Regions from separate parts of the Homo sapiens genome. Here regions 1, 2 and 4 are each linked to region 3. Evidence: fine-mapped expression QTL. A gene starts in region 3. Each other region holds a variant in brackets. All regions are shown on one strand. Distances are between the middles of the regions. Region 1 overlaps HERC1 (HECT and RLD domain containing E3 ubiquitin protein ligase family member 1). Region 2 has its middle 2.9 kb from the start of MIR422A. Region 3 holds the start of HERC1 (HECT and RLD domain containing E3 ubiquitin protein ligase family member 1). Region 4 overlaps HERC1 (HECT and RLD domain containing E3 ubiquitin protein ligase family member 1).

The links. PIP is the estimated chance that this variant, and not a neighbour inherited with it, causes the effect. A credible set is the group of variants that fine-mapping cannot tell apart.
Region 1: its variant is the best candidate, but not a certain one, in a credible set for the expression of HERC1 in whole blood (TOPMed, PIP 0.62).
Region 2: its variant is the best candidate, but not a certain one, in a credible set for the expression of HERC1 in whole blood (TOPMed, PIP 0.78).
Region 4: its variant is the best candidate, but not a certain one, in a credible set for the expression of HERC1 in whole blood (TOPMed, PIP 0.65).

The regions. Positions count from the first base shown.
Region 1 is chr15:63,784,135-63,788,620 of GRCh38, forward strand. All of the region lies in intron 1 of HERC1 (HECT and RLD domain containing E3 ubiquitin protein ligase family member 1), which reads right to left. Among named protein-coding and RNA genes, the nearest start is that of HERC1, 48 kb to the right of the region's middle. The variant T/A (reference allele first, on the strand shown) is at 2,084.
Region 2 is chr15:63,865,838-63,870,323 of GRCh38, forward strand. No RefSeq gene overlaps it. Among named protein-coding and RNA genes, the nearest start is that of MIR422A, 2.9 kb to the right of the region's middle. The variant T/A (reference allele first, on the strand shown) is at 1,696.
Region 3 is chr15:63,831,631-63,836,116 of GRCh38, forward strand. HERC1 (HECT and RLD domain containing E3 ubiquitin protein ligase family member 1) reads right to left here and starts at 2,318. Exons shown (of 78, transcript NM_003922.4): 1 at 2,197-2,318. RefSeq lists enhancers at 1,474-2,339, 2,340-3,203, 2,377-2,506 and a silencer at 1,707-2,136.
Region 4 is chr15:63,776,226-63,780,711 of GRCh38, forward strand. The region is part of intron 1 of HERC1 (HECT and RLD domain containing E3 ubiquitin protein ligase family member 1); the gene reads right to left. Among named protein-coding and RNA genes, the nearest start is that of HERC1, 55 kb to the right of the region's middle. The variant C/A (reference allele first, on the strand shown) is at 1,955.

The DNA of each region.
Region 1 (4,486 bases), 47 kb before region 3:
GATGTCCTGAAGTCATCTATGTAATCCAAGATGATAAATCTAATCTAAAATATTATCCATATCCTAAAATATGTTCTTTTTAAGTACCAGTGGAAAATATTTTCAAATTGACTATTATCTAACAAATAATTCAAAAATATACACATAATTATAGACCACAGTTCTAGCCAGAAAGTAGTGAAACCAAAAAGAATTCACAAAACAACTAAAATGGAGCAATCTCCAAGATACACTGTTAAAAAAGAAAAATATGTAAAGTATTTGTGTATACTGTAATAGTTCATATACAGTAACATAACTATATTAAAAAGGGTTTAATAATAAATGCTGAAAACATTTTTTTAAAACCTAGGAACACTAGTTGCCTCTGGGAGAAGGAGAATTGGGTTACTGGGAGCTGGGGTAGGAAAGATATTTGCTCTTCACTGCATAAATTTGAATTTCTTATATATGCATGTATTATCATGCAAATTTTTTTTTTTTTCCTTTTTGAGACAGAGTCTCACTCTGTCACCCAGGCTGGAGTGCAGTGGCGCAATCTCGGCTCACTGCAACCTCCGCCTCCCAGGTTCAAGCGACTCTCCTGCCTCAGCCTCCCAAGTAACTGGGACTATAGGTGGCTGCCACCGCATCCAGCTAATTTTTTTTGTATTTTCAGTACAGTTGGGGTTTCACTGTGTTGGCCAGGATGGGCTCGCTTTCCTGACCTCAGGTGATCAGCCCACCTCGGCCTCCCAAAGTGCTGGGATTACAGGCGTGAGCCTCTGCCCCTGGCCTATCAGTGCAAATTTTCAAAAAGCATTTTTAAAGAAATCCAAAACAAGGCAAAACCTAAATTTTTGGAAACTAAGTTTCTCAGACAAAGAGAGGAAGGGGAAAGGAGTTACAAATTATCTAGAAAGTTATATAAAAGAAACATATATCAAAATCAAGGGAATGTAGTCAAAGTTGACTCAAATAAATATATAAAGACTCAAATGCTCCATTTCTAAGTAAGAATTAACTGAAAGCCAGGTGTGGTGGCTCACTCCTATAATCCCAACATTTTAAGAGGCCAAGGTGGGAGGAAGCTTTAGGCCAGGAGTTCAAGACCAGCCTGAGCAACATAGCAAGACATTACCTTGACAAAATGTTTAAAAATTATCTGGGCATGGTGGTACACGACTGTGGTCCCAGCAACTTAGGCTTGGGTGGGAGGATCGCTTGAGCTCAGAAGTTCAAAGCTGTGAGCTATAAGTGCACCACTGCACTCCAGCCTGGGCAATAAGGTGAGACAAAGTCTCTTAAAAAAATTAAATATATTAATAATTCAATTCAAAATTAGAAAAACAAAATAAACTTTAAGAATATTAGGCTGGGCACGCTGGCTAACACCTGTAATCCCAAGGCTTTGGGAGGCCAAGGTGGGCGGATCACTTGAGCTCAGGAGTTCAAGACCAGCCTGCACAACATGGAGAAACCCCATCTCTACAAAAAATACAAAAAATTAGCCAGGAATGGTGGCGCATGATGTGGTCCCAGCTACTCAGCAGGATGAGGTGGGATGATCCCTTGCGCTCAGGAGGTCAAGGCTGCAGTGAGTCAAGATCATGCTACTACACTGCAGCCTGGTCAACAGAGACCCTGTCTCTAAATAAAGAAGGAAAGAAGGAAGGAAAAGGGGAAGGGGAAGGGAAGGGAAATTGGTAAATGAGAAAAATTCAAAAACAACAGGATTGATATCTCAGAGAGATTATTCTTCTTTTTCTTTTTTAGAGACAGAGGTCTCACCGTGTTGTCCAGGCTGGTCTCAAACTCCTGGACTCAGGCAATCTTCCCACTTGGGCCTCCCAAAGTGCTGGGATTACAGGTGTGAGCCACCATGCCCAACCCAAGAGATAATTCTTTAGTGGAAAAAAATGAAAACAATCAGCTAACAAAATTAAGAAAAAAAAGACAAAACATAAGGTACTCAATATTATAAATAAGAATGGAAAGACAAGCTAGATGCACTGCAGTGTGCCTGTAGTCCCAGCTACTTAGCAGGTTAAAGTGGGAGGACTGCTGGAGGCCAGGAGTTCGAGGCTGTAGTATGCTATGATTG[T/A]GCCTGAGAATAGCCACTACACGCCAGGCTAGACAACACAGCAAGATCATGTTTCTATTAAAAAAAAAAAAAAAAAAGAAGAAGAAGAAGAATCGAAAGACAGCTGTGAAGAGCAGTTTGCTGGTGGTATCTCAAAAAGTTAAAAACAGAGTTTCCTTATGGCCCAACAATTCGACTCCTAGATCTATACCCAAGTGAACTGAAAACACATGTTCATATGAAAACTTGTACACAAACATTCACTGGAGCATTACTCGTAATAGCCAAAAAGTGGAAACAACACAAATGACCATCAAGATATGAATGAATAAACAAAATGTCATATTATCTACACAGTGGAATATTATTCAGCCATAAATAGGAATGAAATACTGATACATGCTATAATTTGAGCCTTGTAAACATTCTGCCAATTGAAAGATGCCAGATATAAAAGGCTATATAATGTATGATTCTATTTATAAGAAATGTACAGTACAGGATGGCCAAATGCTTAGAGATAGAAAGTAGATTAGTAGTTGCCAGAGGCTGGAGAGGAAGGGAAAATGGAGAAACTGGTAAGATTTTACTTTGGAATTATGAAAATGTTTTGGAACTAGAGACGGTAGTTGCACAATACTGTGAAAGTACTAAATGCCACTAAATCGCTCACTTTAAGATGGTTAATTGTACGTGATGTGAACTTCAACTCAATAAATTATTATTTTTTTTTTTTTTATTTTTTGAGACGGAGTTTCACTCTTGTTGCCCAGTCGGTAGTGCAATGGCATGGTCTCACCATGCCCAGCTAATTTTTGCATTTTTAGTAGAGATGGAGTTTCACCATGTTGGCCAGGCTGGTCTTGAAGTCCTGACCTCAAGTGATCTGCCTGCCTCAGCCTCACAAAGTGCTGGGATTACAGGCATGAGCCACCATCCCCAGTCTCAATAAATTATTATTATCATATTATTATTTTTGAGATGGAGTCTCACTCCGTCACCAAGGATGGAGTGCAGTGGTGCAATCTCCGTTCACTGCAACCTCCGCCTCCAGGATTCAAGCAATTCTCCTGCCTCAGCCTCCCGAGTAGGTGGGACTACAGGCATGCACCACCACACCCAGCTAATTTTTGTATTTTTAGTAGAGGCAGGGTTTCACAATGTTGGCTAGGCTGGTCTCAAACGCCTGACCTCAGGTGATCCACCTGCCTCAGCCTCCCAAAGTGCTGGAATTTCAGGCATGAGCCGCCACGGCTGACCAATAAATTATTTAAATTAAAAAAATATATCTGGCAGATAATGCTTCCCCAAAATGAACTGAGGGTATGTTACTGAAAGAAGAGAGAACCAATGGTGGGCAACAAATACTCAAAAAAAGTTCGCTACATCAAGAATGACTTTGATGGGTCAAACTATTATAGAGCCAGACTCGGTGGCACACATCTACAGTCCTAGCTACTTGGGAGGCTAAGGCAGGAGGATCACTTGAGGCCAGGATTTCAAGGCTGTAGTGCACTATGATCACTCCTGGATAATACAGCAAGACTCCATCTCTTTTTAAAAAACTTACTAACCTGGACAATATGGCAAAACCCCGACTCTACAAATAATACAAAAAATTAACCGGGCGTGGTGGTGTATGCCTGTGGTCCCAGCTGGGGAGGCATACTGGGGAGGCCGCCTGAGTCCAGAAGGTCAAGGCTGCAGTGAGCCAAGATTGTGCCACTGTACTCCAGTCTTGGCGACAGGGTGAGACCCTGTCTCAAAAAAAAAAAAAAAAAAAAAAGACAAAACAAAACAAAAAACCTTACAAGCCAGTTTCATCAAATTGAACTCAAAGGAAAGAAAGTTCAAGTGCATTTAAAGAATAGGAAGTAGATCAGAATAGCTACAATACATAAAGACATTTGTATAAAATTGTAGGAAAATGAAAAGCAGTACAGAATGTGAAAAAGACAGTTAACAAACAAATGAATTTGGGTTTCTATTCTATAATCCAGTACAAGTCAGACTGATGATTTGGGGAACAAAAGTGTTATCTGCACCTAACACAGCATCTGATACCTATATGCCCTCAATGAAGGATGCATTTCAAAAAAACCAATTTAACAGTTATTTACTGTAAATTGGAGAATTGGGATAATATAGTTGGGATACTACCGAAATAAATCAGTAATGAGATTTAAAGAAACTATAATCACAACAAAATAAAGCCCTGATTGTTTTAAGGAAGAATTCTATCATGACTTCAACAGACAATTCCTAAGCTACTTTAAATGTTTTAGGGCATAGAGCAAAGAGTCTCAGTTCTTTTTAAGCAGTCAATAAAGTAACAATAGCAAAACTTAATGAAGCACAAAAAGTACAGCTGTAATACTACCACAGTTGTGGATTTCATAATCTATAATTAATAAAAATCTGCAA
Region 2 (4,486 bases), 34 kb after region 3:
CCTATAAAGTGTTGTTTATAGGAATCGTGCCAACTTACTGCCCAAGTTAAGTTTTATTTGTTGGTATATATTAACACATATACACACAGTTTACAATTTAATTTTCACCCTAAGTGGTGTACAGTCATTAAAGGGGCCCAGACCTCTGGGCTGCTCCAGGTTAAGAACCTTGCCCATGTCTCCTAGACCCTGAGTCTGATCTTCATCTCAGAAGTTGTCAAACTCCACCTGCAAAGCTCACTCTGGGGTAACCAAGCTCTGGAGAACCCAGGCCTCTGATGCAGACGCTTGAGAGGCTGATAAACAGGAAGGCCAATGGCTCCTTTTACCGATGGGGACACACTGAGCAGTCCTGGGTAAGGGCCCTCCCCATCACTGCGTGCCCAGCAGAAAGGAGGAACACAGGGTGCTCAGTGTTCTTCAGCACCCTCTTCCTAGCTATAACAACCATGGTTTTCACTGGCTGGTTCAACTTTATTGTGGGATAGAAGTCAATGATCAGAGCAGATATAAATAAAGAGCATTAGAAAATAATGAATCAGGAACATTTTTTTTTTTTTAAGATTCCAGTTCTACAAACCTGTTAGGAAAAACATCAGCCCCTACCACTCCCGTTTCCCACTTTCCAGGGAAACCACGTTCAGCTCTTACAGTGTCTTAAAAAAAAAAAAAATCTACTCCTTCCTGCTATTTTTCAGATTGGAAAACAGTTTGTAGAAGTCCTGGATGAGGGTCTCAATTTTGACAATTGCTCTAAGAGAACCTGTAAAGCAATATGAAATCTTGTAGAGCAATAGTAATTAGCTGTGGTAGAGGGTAGTTATAATAATGTAACTATTGCATCCTAACCCCTCTACCACAGCTAATTATTTCATGTTGCTGTACAGATTGCAAATGACTCTCCTCTACAGTATATCTTTTTTTTTTTTTTTTTTTTTTTTTGGTTTTGTTTTTGTTTGAGATGGAGTCTCGCTCTGTCTCCCATGCTGGAATGCAGTGGCGCGATCTCAGCTCACTGCAACCTCCGCCTCACGGGTTCACGCCATTCTCCCGCCTCAGCCTCCTGAGTACAGGCACCCGCCACCATGCCGGGCTAATTTTTTTTTCCTTTTTTTTTTTTTTTGTATTTTTAGTAGAGACGGGGTTTCACCGTGTTAGCCAGGATTGTCTCAATCTCCTGACCTCGTGATCTGCCCGCCTCAGCTTCCCACAGTGTTGGGATTACAGGCGTGAGCCACCGCGCCTGGCCTATATCTTTCTTTTTTTAAAAAAGGTAATTTTTATTGTGTTAAAATATACATAATATAAAATTTATCTTTTTTACTTTTTATTTTTTCTTTGAAACAGGGTCTCACTCTGTCACCCAGGCTGGAGTGCAGTGGCACAATCATAGCTCACTTCAGCCTTGAACTCCTGGATTCAAGCGGTCTTCCTGCCTTAGCCTCCAGAGTAGTTGGGCATTTTAACAATTTTTGACTGTACAATTCTTTGGCATTAAGTATATTCATGTTGTGTAGGCATCACCACCATCCATCTTAAAACTTTTTCACCACCTTAAACTGAAACTCTGTACCCATTAAACAATAACTCCCCATTGCTTCCTCCTCCAGCTCCTGATAATGACTACTCTACTTTCTTTCTCTATGAGTTTGACTCCTCTACGAACCTCATCTACCTGGAATCATACATTTGTCC[T/A]CCTTTTGTGTCTGGCTTCTTTCACTTAACATAGTGTTTTCAAGGATCATCATGTTGAAGCATGTATCAGAATTACATTCCTTCTTCAGGCTAAATGGTATTCCGTTGTGTATGTATCATACTTTGCTTATCCATTCATCCATTAATGGATGCTTGGGTTGTTTCCACTGTTTGGCTCTTGTGAATAACGCTGCTATGAACATGAGGGTAAAAATATCTGTTGAAGTCCCTGCTTTCAATTCATTCATTCATTCATTGAGACAGGATCTTACTTTATCAGTCAGGCTGGAGTGCGTGGTGTGATCACAGCTCACTGCAGCCTCAACCTTCCAGGCTCAAGCCATCCTCCCACGTCAGCCCCCTTAGTAGCCAGGACCACAGGTGCATGCCACCATGCCCAGCTAATTTAATTTTTTTTTTGTAGAGAAGGGGGGGTCTCACTATGTTGCCCAGGCTGGTCTTGAACTCCTGCCTCAAGCAGTCCTCCCTCTTTAGCCTCCCAAAGTTCTAGGATTGCAAGTGTGAGCCACTGAGCCCAGCCTCAATTTTTTGTATACCTAGAAGTGGAATTGCTGGATCTTCTAGTAATTTTATGTTTAATTTTTTGAGGGACCTACTTTGTCTTTCTGACAACAGTTTTATGACCAAGGTGAGGCAGATACTAAGACAACTGTTCTCATAAACCAGACAGGACACTTGGTGGCTGGCCCAGGGTCTCAAAGCTTGTTGGAAAGTAGAGCTGGGACTTGAGCCTGGCTCTTCTGGCTTTAAGTCCACCTTCTTTCTCGCTACCATGCTGTCCTCCCTATTATATTGGCCTTCTTAAGCCTATAGTCCCCAACCAGAGGTCTCAGATAGATGTTCCCATTCCTCCAGAGCATGTAGAGGAAGCTACATTTATGCAGCCACCCCCCTTTGTTTGCAATCATCATTAGCATCTATCAATGGCACATGCCTGGTCTATTATAGGTCTTGAATTAGAGCCCACCTCACCTCCGGTTAGACTAACTCATTGGATGAAGAAGTCTCATTGACACATTGGGAAAAAGGGTGTGCCTTTGCAATGATTCATGTCTATCTTATATGAATGCTTAATCCCTCAGGGGCTGTTCTTTGATCCAAATTTTGTTCCCCCTCTATTCTGGACCAACTGCTCCACACATAACTCATGGCATTGAAATAACAATTTTAAAGTAGCTGCCACATTTCAGGAATGGAGGGCTTTGCACATGTTAGCTCATTTACTCCCCTCACCCTGAGAAACAGAAAGCATCTTTCTGTTTTGCAGATAAAGAAACATAGGCCAGAGAGATCAAGCCACTTGCCTGAGAGATGGCCCAAGATTTTCTGGGTGCCAACATCAGTGCCTCTATTTCTCCACCTCACAACACCTCCTTCCCAAGGATATCTCCCACTATGTAAGACTTTGTAATCTAAAGCTTATGCTCTTAACGGGAACAGAGGGTTTTTTGAGTTGATGGGTTTTTTTTCTTTTTTCCTGTCTGGAGTTCAGACTTGACTTCTAATTGGTAGGGTTTTGTCCTCACTTCTTTGGACCCTCTCCTACAAGACCCTCTCCTACAAGACCACCCACCAGTCTGGGTCCTAATTGTTTGTGACTCTTTTTCAGGGTGGGAGCAGGGTGGTTATGGAATGACCATGGGTCCCGGCATGTAATAAGTGGCCATGACCTCTAGGTCTCTGGGCTAACACCAAGTGTCCCTGTTTAGCCAGTTCTCATTGAGATGTATTGAATGAATAAATAAGCTCATGAAAAAAAAATCAACCTAGACGATATTCTTCTCATCAAGAATAATAATACAAAATCAACCTAGACAATATTCTTCTCATCAAGAATAAAAATAAAATAAACCTAGACAATATTCTTCTCATCAAACAAAAACAAACAAACAAACAAAAAACTCATAATTATCCCCAGTGTTCTCTGCTTCAAAATAATGTGGAGGTACTCAGGAGGCTGAGGTGGGAGGATTCCCTCAGGCCAGGAGTTTGAGACCAGCCTGGGCAACACAGCAAGACCCCATCTTTAAAAAATTTTTTTTTAATTATCCAGGTGTGGTGGTATGTGCCTATAGTCCCAGCTACTTGAGAGGCTGGTGTGGGAGGGTGATTTGAACCCAGGAGTTTGAGGCTGCAGTGAGGTATAATCTCACCACTGCACTCCAGCCTGGATGACAGAGCAAGACCTTGTCTCTAAAACACACACACACACACACACACAAACACACATAATAGTGAGGAGGACTTGAATGCTATGAGAAGTGGGGAGCTTAGGAGGAGAGAGGAGGCCAATTTGCTATGATGAAAAGTTCAGTGCCCTAAGTTGAAATCCTAATTCCAGTCGCTTACTGTGTGGCCCTGGGCACATCACTTAACCTCTCTGAGTCATATTTTTCTCATTTTTGAAAAGGGGATAATAATTCTTGCCTCGCTGAGATGGTTGTGAGGATTAAATAAAATGAGGGGTGTGAAGGTGAGAGCACAGTCTCCAGCACACAGGAGAAATGAGGAAGCAGAGAGAATACTGGATGGATGAATGACCTAGCAAACAGTACAATATAGAATCTGTTTAAAGAAGTGAGCTTAAAAAATCCTCATGTGATGTATGTTATCTTTTGGGGCTATAAATGGCATTAGGCAATGAGGTATGTCAACGAACAATTATGACTCACCGTGGAAATACCAAGTCTTTAAAACCCAAGAACCAATTACCAAATCCAGCATCAAAGACACACTGAAGCACTTAAAAAAAAAAAAAAGTCCCATAGTC
Region 3 (4,486 bases):
TATACCCAGCCCCCTTTTTTTTCTATTTCAAATATTAGGGAGTATTCAGTATGACTTTTTTGGGGGAAAACATGCTTGGAACGTTGGAATTGTTATTACTATTTATTATTTGCACCCTCTACTAACCCAATCCAGTCCAATCACCAACACATTCTCCAAAATTTCTTTAAATTGAGATTTTCAAGAGATGTTTATATTAATAAGCAGATTAAGTGACGCATTTACATTTGCTTTCTCTTCCATGCAACATCAGGGTGCCTGCATTGGAAATGGAATACATGACCAGCAAATGAATGGATGTGTCACATGCAAACAGCATGACTGGAAATTTAAGAAGCAAAATGATAAGAACCTTAGGGAACGCAAAATTCATAAAAGTTTAGAATTACAAGAGGCCTTAATAGGCCATTTAATCCATTCCAATAACAACAACCCCAGATGACAATCTATCCTATTTTTAAAAGGCTCCAGATTTCCAACCTCCCTAGATATCTCATTCTGCCATACAACCTTGTCATGTGATTTGGGGGAAATATTATGACTGTTCTTTGCCCTTCCTAATGCTATCTTTTCTCAAATAATATAGCAATACATCTTAACTCACTTCCAAGATATATAAATGTGTATAGGTGCAGAATACGTGTGTGTGTGTGTGTGTCTCTATACATATATACGTACATTTATGCATAAGACAGGCACCTAGGACATTCAATTTTGCTTGTATAAACGCAGGCTATGGAAACACATATATCAAAGAGACATACTCATCCCACACTAATCACAACAGGCACTATGAAACAATGTCACAGAACAATTTTGGTCTAAAAATATCCAGTAGAAATCAATTTCATAAAACCTGAGGTAAATAGGTTTCTTCCCACTATGAATAATCATAGTTTCTTTCCCTTCTACAAATACTGCCCCATTTTGAGCAACCACCACTAACAGAATTGTAAAAATATAATATATACATAGGTACTAGACCCAAACAGACAATGTTTTAACGTTTGATTTTTCAAACCACTTAGCTAACAATCATTTTGGAAAAGGGCCCAGTGAAAAAGATAGTGATGGCAGAGTTCAGCCAGTGATAATGAACTAGCAGCCAGTTTTAATCAAGCAGGCCAGAGAACTGATTCAAATAAAATAAATCATTTTTGGAACAAATATAGAATGAGGAAGTCCCAAGCAAGGATAAAAAAAAATGTGTCTGTTAGGAAATACAATAAAATGTTAACCATGAAATGCCACCTCTGGAGATGGAATTACAAAGATGGGTTAGTTTGTTCAGATTTGTTATTCCCATCATTTAATTATCTCTATATTCTAAGTATTATAGACATTTCTTAAACTAAGACAAATCTGTCCCTGTGTTTCACAGCTCTCTAAGATAACATGTCTTTTACATAACCTCCTGGGAGAGGTGGTACAAGCTCCTGTCCTCCTCGTGTCTCCCAGTAACCTGCCACCCATCACAGAACAGATTTCACCATGTTCCCCGGGGTAGCTCCTGTCATCACCATCATCATCCTCATCTCACGCTTAAGACTAAACAATGCGCCCCGCCTCGCCTCCCGGTTGCAAAGGCTTTATAATTTGTTGTTTTATTGGGGCGGGAGATTTGGAGAAAGGTTTAGCAGATGATGAGCTGCCCTCACCCAAAGGCAGAGGAGAGGAGGAAGACACGTCGTCCCAGCCTCCACCCCGCTAAAGGCGGCCGGCGCCTGGGGACACCGGGGTCGCGGCACTCCCCGGACCCTGAGAGGGAGTCGGCCGCCGCCCGCGGACCGAGCCCCAGCCGGGGCAGAGGAGCTGGTCAGCAGATAAAGGAATGAAGCAGAAAGAGACGCGACCACAGCGGGGCCGGGGCACAGACGTTGTAAGCCGCTGGAGGGGCGGGTCTCTCGGCCCTCTCCGCGGGCGCCTCGGCTTCTACGCTGCTCCGAGGCGCCCGGGCGGCAGGAGGCCTCTAGAGCCGGGGACCCGGGGGATCCGCGGCGCGCCAGGAGGGCTCCCCCAGCTCGCCTGCCGCCCACCCGGGACCCCAGCAGCCCCGCTCGGCTGCAGTCCCGAAACGGCCCCGGCCGGCCCTGCGCGGCCGGCAAAGCACACACGCGCGCGCGCACACACACACACACACACACACACACACACACACACAGGACCAGGAGGACGGTAGATGATGCGTTACCGTACGTGGCTCTGGAGCTGGCGGGGTGGGGCGCGGCTCCGGCGACCCGAGCCCGGCTCCGCAGAGGCTGCGGCGGTCGCGTCCTTTATTTTTGCTGCAGCAGCAGCGACTTGTCAAAGGGAAAGACGTAAGAGGCGGCGGCAGCAGCGGCGGCGTCAGGCGAGTCTCACGAGATTTGGGCGGAACTCTCGCGCAGCCGGGAGCCCTCGCCCCGCCCAACAGGCCCAGCGCGGGAGGTGAAAGGGGAACCGAGAGGAAGGCGGCTGAGGTGGAGTTGGGGGTTGAGCGAAAAGGGGAAAGGGATTTGGGAGCGAGGGGAGCCAAGCTAGGTGCTGGGGACACTTTGCTACCGCGCGGCCCTCACCCTTCAGCCGTCGCGGAATCCGGGCAGCCCCGACCGCCTGCGGGGACCTGACTCCACAGATGAAGCACAATTGGGGGCGTTTCACAAAGGGTGGTGAGGAGTGGGGGGCCATGCAGTGCGCCCCCTTTTCCTCGTGGTGGGCAGGGAAGACCCCGCCGCCAGGCGAAGGGACACGTGTTACGGCCGGCGGCAGGGCCAGGGCCTCACCCCTTTATCTCCGCCTCGCACCCGGCGCCCCACGCTCTTTATCTCTCATCGCAGCGGCCCCGGCCCTCCGGCCGGCTAAGTTCAATCACATAAAAGCGTTTCACTTGACCTACTCTTCCACCTTGTTCATGTCTTTGCGCCTTATGGGACTGCCAGAACCCTGCAGATGCCAGGGCCTGGCTCCTCGGTTTTCTTTTCTGCTTGGGAACACAGTAGTGTCCTTTGGGTGACTTACATCCTTGATCATGACCTCGACCTCCACGTGAAACCCCATGAGGGGAAGGACACAGACTGGCTCAGTCCTCACCATATCTCCAGCGCCTAACATAGGTCCAAGTGGACATTAAATTGTTGAGTGAATACCCCATCTCCATCTTCCTCCTTCTGTACCTGGTTTTACTCCTTTCCAGCCACCTTCATGGTGTCTTTCCTTCCAGATATTCTAACGAGCATCAATTAAACTGACCGATGACTTGGGGACAAAAAATAGAGTTGGCCTCTGCGTTCCAGAAGTTTGCAATCCAATTGGAGGCGTAGGAGAAGCACACAAACATACAAGCCATGAATGTGTCACTAATGTAAGAAATTACGGTATAGACAGACGAGGGAGTGCTTTCCCATGGTTAAATTAGATACATGTTTGTGTGTCACATGAGGCAGTTTAGTCCAAGAGTTAGGAGCCATGTGCTTCACTGTCAGACACTGGTGGGAATTCTGGAATCCCACTTACCCCAGGTGTGTGACCTTGGGCAAGTTGCTTGACCTCTCTGAACCTCAGTTCCTTATGTGTCAATTTATAATGCCAGTTCTTGTTATCACAAGGTTCCTCTGAGGAGTAAAATATATGTAAAGCTCACATACGGCACATATTAAGTACTCATTAAATGATGGGTCTTAGGTGTGTAGCTTTTAAGTTTCTATGTATAAAATGTGTATTTCTGGTAAATGATGTAAGGGAGTAGCTACATGAGGAGTGATGTCATTGTTGCTAGTGCTTTATGATCTGGGTATTGTGTGTGAAGCATACTCAAAAACAACAAGCAAAAGCTCCTCCTTTTAACTTGTTGATGTCATCTACGTCACTCACAAATATGATATTCTGTCTTTCTTGAATTTGTAAAATTGTACTGGTTTTGCCCACTTTTTCTTTTTCTTTTTTTTGAGATGGAGTTTTGCTCTTGTTGCCCAGGCTAGAGTGCAATGGCACCATCTTGGCTCACTGCAACCTCCGCCTCCCAGGTTTAAGCGATTCTCCTGCCTCAGCCTCCCAAGTAGGTGGGATTACAGGTGTGTGCCACCATGCCTGGCTAATTTTTGTATTTTTAGTAGAGATGGGGTTCCACCATATTGGCCAGGCTGGTCTCGAACTCCTGACCTTGTGATCCGACCGCCTTGGCCTCCCAAAGTGCTGGGATTACAGGGGTGAGCCACCGTGCCCAGCCTGGTTTTGCCCATTCTATTTCAAGAAAAGGACTGCTTACTTTAAAGACCAATCAAGAGACTCCCTCTTTTACCATCTCCTTAGCTTCCACCCTCAGAGCTGTGTGTAAAAGAGAATTGAATACAACTGTGTTCAGTTGCATACAATTAGCAAATACTGTTAGTGTCAGCAAGTGAGCCCTGACTACTAGCCACCCTCACCTTGACCACACCACTCTTTCCCAAAACACTGTTTTTTTCTTTCTTTCTTTTTTCTTTTTGAGGTGGAGTCTCACTCTGCTGCT
Region 4 (4,486 bases), 55 kb before region 3:
ACATGGCTATCTAACAGTTTTGGTTATGGTTGGATATCTCAAAATTAACATATCCAAAACTGAGCTCCTATTCTACCAGTACCACCACCCCACCCAAACCTGTCCCTCCTGTAGACTTCTTTCTCTCAATAAATGGTAACTCCATCCTTCTAGTTCCCTGAGCCAAAAACTTTGGGACTCATAATTGTAGAATGGAACACCCACTTTGGAAAGGTGGCTGGCAGTTTCTCATAAAACGAAACATATATCTAACCCTATGACCCAACAATTCCTCTTCTAAAGATTTATCCAAAAGAAAACATAAGACCATAAAAATACTTCAATCAAAATAGTGGTTGCCTCTAGAGGGTGACAGCATGAACTGACTGTGAGGAGCATGAGGACACTTCTTGAGATAATATTCTATGTCTCAATACTGGTGTGGAATACACAGGTTGCGCATTTGTTAAAACCTAGTGGGCTGGGCATGGTGGCTCACACCCATAATCCTAACATTCAGGGACGCCAAGGCAGGAGGACTGCTTGAGCTCAGGAGTTTGAGACCCGCCTGGACAACACAGTGAGATCTCGTCTCTACATAAGAAAATAAAAATAAAAAAACTCAGTGAAAGTGCACTTGAGATTTTTACATTTCACTGCATGTAAATTTTGCCTCAACAAATACTGAATAATGATATGCAAGCTGAAGTATATTTGAGGGAAGTAAACAGACATCTGTAGTTTATTTTGAAATGCATCAGAAATAAGATGCATTGACATATATTTTTTATATACACACAAAATTTTTAATTACAAAATATTGCAGGGAAGGTGTCTCTCAAGCAAGTCCTCAGAATGTCACTTATAATAGCTGGTAATAGAGAGAAACCTCAATCACTGAAGGGAATTTAATTTTCATGACACAGGCAGATCTTCAAGAAAGCACTCCAATGATAAAGATCCCAGACTACAGTAATTAAAAGGAGTTTCTTATATCTCATTATGCCCTGGTAAATTCTAAATATAAAATCTGATGACACTTGCCTTCACAAGTTTATGATTACTATGCTTAATTCATCTTCCTAAGATACTTGTAAAGTATGCACTTAAGAGGGGGGAAAATCATGATCCTCCATCCCACCCTGACTTCATTTGGTATTAAACACCAGCATTGTGCAGAGGACATAAAAGTGCCTTATTTACCTCCATCCCTTCCCACATAAGCCATATGTAATTTTGCTGTTTTAAATTTGGCCAGTTTGATAGCTGTACAGGGATACGTTGTTACTCTAATTTGTATTTCTCTGATTACTAATAAATCTGAACATCTTATGTTTGTTGGTCATCTGGATATGCTCTTCTGGGAAATATTTATTCATGCATTCTCCTATTTTGTTATCTTGTCAACTTGTAAAAGTTTTTTGTATTTTATCACAGTCTGTCCTCAACATTGCAAATATTTCTTCTAAATCTATCTTTTACATACACACACATCTTTTATTTTATAGCTTCTGTTTTCCATTCTTGGTCAAAAGAGTATCCCTGCCCGACTCTCACACCCAGATTCCACATGAATTCTAGATTATATAGGTAATCACCTATACAAAACCACCTTGATATTCTTGAGAGATTTTTTTTAAAAACCTGAGTCTTTAGTCCATCTGGAATTAAAATAAATTCTACATTCATCTGGAAGTTTAATACACTCTATATAGGACAAGCTGAGTCCAATTTTATTGTTTCCAGGTAGAAGGCTAGTTATACCAACACCATTTATTAAGTAATCCAGGACTTCTACATAGTTGAAGACAATGGCAGCTGCATAGCTATCTGCCCAAAATTTAAGAAAAACAAGAAGGAAAAATTAAATTCTATACCAAACCACACCTGTAGCATAACTTGAAGATACAGAATGCCAAAATTGCAAATAATTGTAAATAAAAAAGAGAAAAAGTCAACCAATCCAGGGTACATG[C/A]TTTCACCTCCATCCAGCCATAAGGCTTTGTGGCAAGCAAAGGCAGACTAAGAAAAACTGCAGAAAAGACAGAGGAGAAAGGCTAGTGAAGGGGGCTAAAAATGATTTGGAGTGACTCCCAGAAAGATTAAATCCACACCGTATCTGAAAACACTGGAAAAGTATCTGGGCAGATCAGAGCACAGACTACAGGGAAGAGATTTTAAAGTACATTTAATTTAAAGCAGAAGGCACGGTTTAAGACAGCAGGTGCAATTTAAAAAGACAAGTGTTAAATAAGCATTTGTTGAAACGCAGAGGAAAGAAAAAGCAAAAAGGAAGAGAGAAGCATGCTTTAACAACTGAGTGGTGAAGGGTAAAAGAAGAAAAAGGGGAAATATTTAGTGTCCTGCAAGGCAAAATAGACCCATAAAATTGAAGACAGAACAACCCTTTCCTCAAGTAAAACAAACAAAATTTCTGCTATTGTATTTGGACTTTGCTATATTGACTGAAGAGAATGCAATTAAATTAAGAATATTATAAAATACTCGATACCACAAAAACGAACATGAGAAAACTCAAGTGCATACAGAGCTATTGCAGAAAACAAAACAAAATTAAATTTTACATTTATCAATTGAGGGAAATTCCCTGATGACGACAAAGCAAAGTGTAAGTTAACAATCCAAACAAAATTAAATAAACTGAAACATATGATGATATGAAAAATCCTGAATCAAAAATTCAAAAACTGAAAGCAGAAATAGACAAAAAGAAAGAAAAAGAAGAAAAGGAAAGGAAGAAAGAAAGGGAAAGAGGTAATTGAACTCAGGAAAGAAATATGAAGAAAAAGGCAAAATTATCTCAGCAATGAAGAATGAATTATAAAAGTGTTCAAGGAAGAGTAGACTCAATGACATAAAGAAAAATGAAAAGGGTGAGAGAAATAATTAGAAAAAGATAAGAAAAAAGAATAATATTCATATTATTGGATTACGTGAGGAAGAAAAATACAAAACAAACAAAAACAGAGCTGGTTTTATAGCTACAATGCAAGAAAACTTTCTAAAATAGAAAAAATATCTGAATCAATATACAAGGTACTTGAGAAAATTAACCCAGACAATCAACTCCAAGAAATAGCCTAGAAAAACTATTATATTTCAAAGACAAAGATAAAATCCTAAAGACCTCCAAGCAAAGAGATGAAATTACTTTAAAAAGCAAAAGAATTAGCCAGGCATTATTTTAAAACAAAATAGCACAGCCACAGCTTTTATAAAGCAAAAACTACAGGAGATGCAAGGAAACATAAATAGAAACACTAATAACGTGAGACATGAATATACCACTCTTAGTACAAGATGGATCAAGTGAACAAAAATAAGAAAACAGAAGATCTAAACAACAAAATAACTCACTTTTCCACTAACAGGATCTATTTCTGGATTCTCTATTCTGGTCCACTTGTCTATTCTTACAACAGTGACTTGATTACAATAGGCTTATAAATGTATAAATGTTCTGATGACTGGTAAGGCAAGTCCCAAAAGTTTAAGATGATATTATTCAGGCCAGGCACGGTGGCTCACGCCTGTAATCCCAGCACTTTTGGAGGTCGAGGTGGGAGGATCACGAGGTCAAGAGATGGAGACCATCCTTGCCAACATGGTGAAACCCCGTCTTTAATAAAAATACAAAAATTAGCCAGTAGTGGTGGTGCGCGCCTGTAGTCCCAGCTACTTGGGAGGCAGAGGCAGGAGAATCGCTCGAACCCGGGAGGTGGAGGTTGCAGTGAGCCGAGATCACAAGACTGCACTCCAGCCTGGCGACAGAGGGAGACTCCATCTCAAAAAAAAAAAAAAAAAAAAGATTATTTTATTCAATTATATGCCATCCCTTCCAACACACTATTGAGGTTCCAATCTGAATTGCATTAGATTTATGTACTTTCAGAAAATAGACATTTTTATGAAATTTGTTCATCCAAGGACAAAGTATGCATTTCTATTTGCTCCTATCCTATTTTAGATTTTCTTCATATAAATCCTGTGCTTTTCTGTTGATTCTTAAGTATTTTTGATTTTGTGATTACTATGAATGGAATTTCCTCATTTCCATTTCTGGTTAATTACTGCTGTCTAGTCATCTGGGTAAATCCATATATTTTCCAAAATTATACAAAGACAGAACAGGAAATGAATCAAAGAAACAGAGGCCATCTAACAACAGGAAATAAAGAAAGAAAACAAGCAAGTATTAAAAAGGTAAAACAGAAGGCCGGGCGCGGTGGCTCATACCTGTAATCCCAGTACTTTGGGAGGCCGAGGTGGGCGGATCACGAGGTCAGGAGATTGAGACCATCCTGGCTAACACGGTGAAACCCCATTTCTACTAAAAATACAAAAAAATTAGCTGGGCGTGGTGGTGGGCACCTGTAGTCCCAGCTACTCGGGAGGCTGAGGCAGGAGAATGGTGTGAACCCGGGAGGCGGAGGTTACGGTGAGCCAAGATCGTGCCACTGCACTCCAGCCTGGGCAACACAATGAG